2 separate regions of the Homo sapiens genome follow, and region 2 is linked to region 1. The links come from fine-mapping of genetic effects on gene expression. A gene starts in region 1. The other region holds a variant in brackets. All regions are shown on one strand. Distances are from middle to middle. Region 1 holds the start of ABHD14B (abhydrolase domain containing 14B). Region 2 overlaps DOCK3 (dedicator of cytokinesis 3).

Region 1 (2,907 bases):
AGCTAAGGCAGTAGAATTGCTTGCACCCAGGAGGCAGAGGTTGCAGTGAGCCGAGAACGCGCCATTGCACTCCAGACTGGGCAACAAGAGAAAAACTCCATCTCAAAAAAACAAAAAACAGAAAAATTATCAGTGGGGGTGCCTGCTGTAAAACCTCAATATGTGGTGGGGCTCCATTACAATTACTGTTCTTATTCTCATCGTTATTATCCTTTTCTATAAATGGGGATAATTCAATAGTACTAGCTCATAGGTGGTTGATAGGATTAAATAAGGCCATGCATGTACCATGCCTAGCACGTAGTAAGGGCTCAGTGCTCAATCAACGGTAAGTTACAGGTCATGAGTTGTCAATGCAGGCCAGAGGGAGCCCAAATTGGGGTAAAAAGCCCATTTTATTTTATTTTATTCTATTTATTTATTTTGGGACAGAGTTTCACTCTTGTTGCCCAGAATGGAGTGCAGTGGCATGATCTCGGCTCACTGCAACCTCCACCTCCTGGGTTCAAGCGATTCTCCTGCCTCAGCCTCCCGAGTAGCTGGGTTTACAGGCGTGCGTCACCATGCCTGGCTAATTTTTTTTTTTTTTTTTTTGAGACGGAGTCTCGCTCTGTCGCCCAGGCTGGAGTGCAATGGCACATCTCCGCTCACTGCAAGCTCCGCCTCCCGGGTTCACGCCATTCTCCTGCCTCAGCCTCCCGGGTAGCTGGGACTACAGGCACGCGCCACCACGCCCGGCTAATTTTTTGTTTTTTTTTTTTTAGTACAGACGGGGTTTCGCCGTGTTAGCCAGGGTGGTCTCGATCTCCTGACCTCGTGATCCGCCCGCCTCAGCCTCCCAAAGTGCTGGGATTACAGGCGTGAGCCACCGTGCACGGCCTAATTTTTATATTTTTAGTAGAAACGGGGTTTCATCATGTTGGCCGAGCTGGTCCGGAACTCCTGACCTCAAGTGATCCACCCACCTTGGCCTCCCAAAGTGCTGGGATTACAGGCGTGAGCCACCGCGCCGGAACTAAAAGCCCATTTTCTTCGGTTTTTTTTTTTTTCTTTTTTTTTTTTTTAAGAGAAGATGTCTCGCTCTGTCGTCCAGGCTGGAGTGCAGTGGCGCAATCATGGATCACTGCAGCCTTGACCTTCCTGGGCTCAAGTGATCCTCCCGGCTCACCCCCAGTAGCTGGAACCACAGGCGCGCTTCCACACCGGAAAGCCCATTTTCTAGAGGCGGAAACCGAAGCGCCCAGTGGGAAAGGCGACCCGCCGGGGATGCGGGGTGCTCAACGCGCTGCCACCTGGGGCCCAACGCGTTGACCTCGCGGTCAGGTTGCTTCCGCGGACTACGGTTCTGGCTCGCTAGCTCTGGAAGGGAGCACCGGGAGGGAATGGTGGCAACTCCCAAGGAGGGGACCCAGGGATCCGAGAAAGGAAGACTTGGGGTAGGTGGGGTTGGATTTTGACTGGAGAGAAGAAAGGGTCAGGAGTGCAGGGCGGGTACCTGGGGAGCTGCGTGGACTCGCGCAGACGGGAAGCAGGCGCGTGCTGGCGGTGACCTGGGGCCGGAGGAGGAACGCTGGGAAGAGGCCGGGCCCCATCCAGCGGGGGCGGGGACTGGGCCGTGCTCCGGGGCGCCCTCTTGTGGCCACAAGCTCGCAGCGTCCATAGACTCCGCTAAACTCGTTCTCACAGCGGCGTCAGTTTCCCAAAGCCTCTCGGTCTCACATGCCCCAAACGCGGTGCTGAGCACGGTTTCGAACTCTTCAGCGACCTGCCCCACATGGACATGGAGCAGTCTGAGGAGGAAAGTTCCTTCGGGATCGCATCCTTGCTGCTGTCTTCCTGCTCCCCATCCCCCTTATCCCCAGCTTGAACTGCCCAGGGCAACTTGTTGGCCTGGCACGGAGTTGAGGCCCGACAGGTTTGAGTGCGAGGCTCCGCCAGTGTCCAGCCAAGTGGCCTTGATCGTTTTCCCAATGCCCCCGAGCCTGTTTCCTGCCAGTAGAGCGGGTCAGATGTTGCCAACCTCTGCAGAGTAGCAATAAGCAGTAAACGCCACGCTCTGCACAGCCTCCCAGTGCTGGGCCTGGTCGCCACGCGGAGCCTTGGGCTGGGACAGGCCAGACGTTGGTAACACATCGCCAACCAGGGCAGGCGCCATGAGTAGACGTGAACGAGCCCAGGGCCAGCCCAGGCTCTGACCGTGGGTGTGCGTCGGGGAGGGGGTGGGGAGGAGTGGGTAGGAGTCAGGAAAGTGGGTCGGCCAAGACCTGGAGCTGCTGCATAACAATATCTGGCATTTACACAACGAGGCCTCTGCTCCGGACACTGTTCTGAGGCTTGACCCGTCCTTAAGAACCTAGGACAACCCTGTGCGGTGGGTTTTATCCTTAACTCCATTATACAGGCCAGAGAACTGAGCCAGGGTGGAGATGTTCCACTGAGAAGAAGCCACATGGCTCTCCGCCGGCTCTCAAGCCAAAAACAGTTCCGAAAATCTGGGCGGGGAGCGGGCCAGAGAGCGCTGGGGCTCTGCCCCCAGCACCCCCTCCACGCAGACGACTCGGTAACTGGGTTGCAGGCCCGCGGCTGCGGAGTGCGCAGGCGCGCCGAGATGGCCGCGCTCCTGGCCGCCTAGAGCCGGAGCGGCCCGCGGAGCTGCGGAGGCAGCCATGGTCGGGGCGCTGTGCGGCTGCTGGTTCCGCCTGGGCGGGGCCCGCCCGCTCATCCCGTTGGGCCCGGTGAGTCTCCCGGGGGAGGGAGGCCGGCCGGTGGCCCAGGGGAGGGCCGTCTTTACCCCGCCCCTTGCCCCGGCGCCCCGGGGCAGAGTCCCGCGGAAGAAGCAGACGCTGGGGCCGCGAATGTGCATGTGCGCGCGTGTAATGTGTGTGCGCGCGCAGGGTCTGCATATGT
Region 2 (2,907 bases), 880 kb before region 1:
AAGCTTAGTGTGGCTGGATATAAAATTCTGGGTTGAAAATTCTTTAAGAATGTTGACTAGAGCTTCAACCACAGCCCTCCTTGGGGTATTAAAAAAGCCTGGAACTGACAACACCAGAATCCAGAATCTCCCAGTTTCTTAATACCAACTTGATGGTGGAATTTGCATTGTCTAGTGCAAAATGCAGCCCTTTTAACATTTACATTTGATCTTTATCTTCTGGTTATACAGATTACTTTATCTAATTTTACCTGTTATTTGTTTTAAAGCTTTTCACCCCATCTTACCCAACTTTTAGTGGAGAAAGGTAATACTCAAAAGCTCTCTCAATTCTTATAACAGCATATAAAACATTTCATGCTCATTAAACTAACACCCTTCATTCTCTCATTCTTTTCAAATGTCAATCCTTAAGTGACATAAATAAGGTTAGCAAAAAAAAAAAAAAAAAAAAAAAAAGAATGTTGACTATTGGCCCCCATGCTCTCTGGCAAAAAAAAAAAAAAAAGAATGTTGACTATTGGCCCCCACGCTCTCTGGCTTGTAAAGCTTCTGCAGAGAGATCCACTGTTAGTCTGATGGGCTTCCCTTTGTGGGTAACCCGACCTTTTCCTCTGGTTGCCTTTAACATTTTTTTCTTCATCTCAACCTTGGTGAATCTGACGATTATGTGTCTTGGGGTTGCTCTTGTGTCTTGGGGTTGCTCTTCTCAAGGAGTATCTTTGTGGTGTTCTCTATATTTCCTGAATTTGAATGTTGGCCTTTCTTACTAGGTTGGGGAAGTTCTCCTGCATAATATCCTGAAGAGTGTTTTCCAACTTGGTTCCATTCTCCCCGTCACTTTCAGGTACACCAATCAAACATAGGTTTGGTTTTTTCACATAGTCCCATATTTCTTGGAGGCTTTTGTTCATTCCTTTTCTTTTCTTTTTTTTTTCTCTAATCTTTTCTTCACACTTTATTTCATTAAGTTGATCTTCAGTCTCTGATATCCTTTCTTCCACTTGATCAATTCGGCTATTGATACTTGTGTATGCTTCACGAAGTGAAGCTGTGCTGTGTTTTTCTGCCCCATCAGGTCATTTATGTTCTTCTCTAAACTGGTTATTGTAGTTAGCAATTCCTCTAATCTTTTTCAAGGTTCTTAGCTTCCTTGCATTGGGTTAGAACATGCTCCTTTAGCTTGGAGGAGTTTGTTATTACCCACCTTCTGAAGCCTACTTCTGTCAATTCACCAAACTCATTCTCTATCCAGTTTTGTTGCCTTGCTGGTGAGGAGTTGTGATCCTTTGGAGAAGAGGCGTTCCGGTTTTTGGAATTTTCAGCCTTTTTGCACTGGGTTTTCCTCATCTTCGTGGATTTATCTACCTTTGATCTTTGATGTTGGTGACCTCCGGATAGGGTTTCTGTGTGGACATCCTTTTTGTTGACGTTGATGCTATTTCTTTCTGTTTGTTAG[C/T]TTTCCAGGTCTGCTGGAGTTTGCAGGAGGTCCTTTCTAGACCCTGTTTGCCTGGGTATCACCAGCGGAAGCTGCAGAACAGCAATGTTCCTTCCTCTGGAAGCTTCGTCCCAGAGGGGCACCCACCAGATGCCAGCCAGAGCTCTCCTGTATGAGGTGTCTGTCGACCCCTGCTGGGAGGTGTCTCCCAGTCAGGAGGCACAGGGATCAGGGACCCACTTGAGGAGACAGTCTGTCCCTCAGCAGAGCTCAAGCGCTGTGTTGGGAGATCCGTTGCTGTCTTCAGATTCACAGGCAGGAGCATTTAAGTCTGCTGAAGCTGTGCCCACAGCCACCCCTTCCCCCAGGTGCTCTGTCCCAGGGAGATGGGAGTTTGTTCTGTAAGGCCCTGACTGGGGTTGCTGAGTTTCTTTCATAGATGCCCTTCCCAGAGTGGAGGAATCTAGAGAGGCAGTCTGGCTACAGAGGCTTTGAGGAGCGCAGTGGGCTCCACCCAGTTCGAACTTCCAGGTGGCTTTGTTTACATTGTGACAGGAAAACTGTCTACTCAAGCCTCAGTAATGGTGGCTGGCCCTCCCCTTACCAAGCTCCAGCATCCCAGGTTGAATTCAGAGTGCTCTGCTGGTAGCGAGAATTTCAAGTCTGTGAATCTTAGCTTCCAGGGCTCCATGGGGGTGGGATCTGCTGAGCTAGACCACTTGGCTCCCTGGCTTCAGTCCCCTTTCCAGGAGAGTGAACGGTTCTGTCTCACCTCACTGGCGCTCCAGGCGCCACTGGGGTATGAAAATAAAACTCCTGCAGCTAGCTTGGTGTCTGCCCAAACGGCCGCCTAGTTTTGTGCTTGAAATCCAGGGCCCTGGTGGCGTAGGCACCTGAGGGAATCTCCTGGTCTATGAGTTGCGAAGACCGTGGGGAAAGCGTAGTATCTGGGCCAGAGTGCACTGTCCCTCATGGCACAGTCCCTCACGGCTTTCCTTGGCTAGGGGAGGGAGTTCCCTGACTCCTTGTGCTTCCCTGGTGAGCCAATGCCCAACCCTGCTTCAGCTCACCCTCCATGGGCTATACCCACTGTCTAACCAGCCCCAATGAGATGAGCTGGGTACCTCAATTGGAAATGCAGAAATCATCTGCCTTCTGCGTTGATCTCGCTGGGAGCTGCAGACCAGATCTGTTCCTATTTGACCATCTTGCCAGCCACCGATCGGAGTTTTGCTCTTTTGCCCAGACTGGAGTGCAGTGATGCGATCTCAGCTCACTGTAACATCCGCCTTCCGGTTTCAAGCTGTTCTCCTGCCTCAGCCTCCCGAGCAGCTGGGATTACAGGTGCCCACCACCATGCCCATCTAATTTTTGTATTTTTATTAGAAATGGGGTTTCACCATGTTTGCCAGGCTAATCTTGAACTCCTGACCTCGTGATCTGCCTGCCTTGGCCTCCCAAAATGTTGG

What was found.
Region 2: its variant is fine-mapped to the expression of ABHD14B in whole blood (TOPMed, PIP 0.98).

Annotation. Positions count from the first base shown.
Region 1 is chr3:51,972,470-51,975,376 of GRCh38, forward strand. ABHD14B (abhydrolase domain containing 14B) reads right to left here and starts at 1,580. Exons shown (of 4, transcript NM_001146314.2): 1 at 1,496-1,580. It overlaps ABHD14A-ACY1 (ABHD14A-ACY1 readthrough), which reads left to right and starts at 2,595. Exons shown (of 17, transcript NM_001316331.2): 1 at 2,595-2,735. ABHD14A (abhydrolase domain containing 14A) reads left to right here and starts at 2,595. Exons shown (of 5, transcript NM_015407.5): 1 at 2,595-2,735. The coding sequence starts at 2,667. RefSeq lists enhancers at 769-1,705, 1,739-1,918 and silencers at 1,149-1,298, 1,519-1,688, 2,519-2,898.
Region 2 is chr3:51,095,418-51,098,324 of GRCh38, forward strand. The region is part of intron 9 of DOCK3 (dedicator of cytokinesis 3); the gene reads left to right. Among named protein-coding and RNA genes, the nearest start is that of MANF, 290 kb to the right of the region's middle. The variant C/T (reference allele first, on the strand shown) is at 1,460.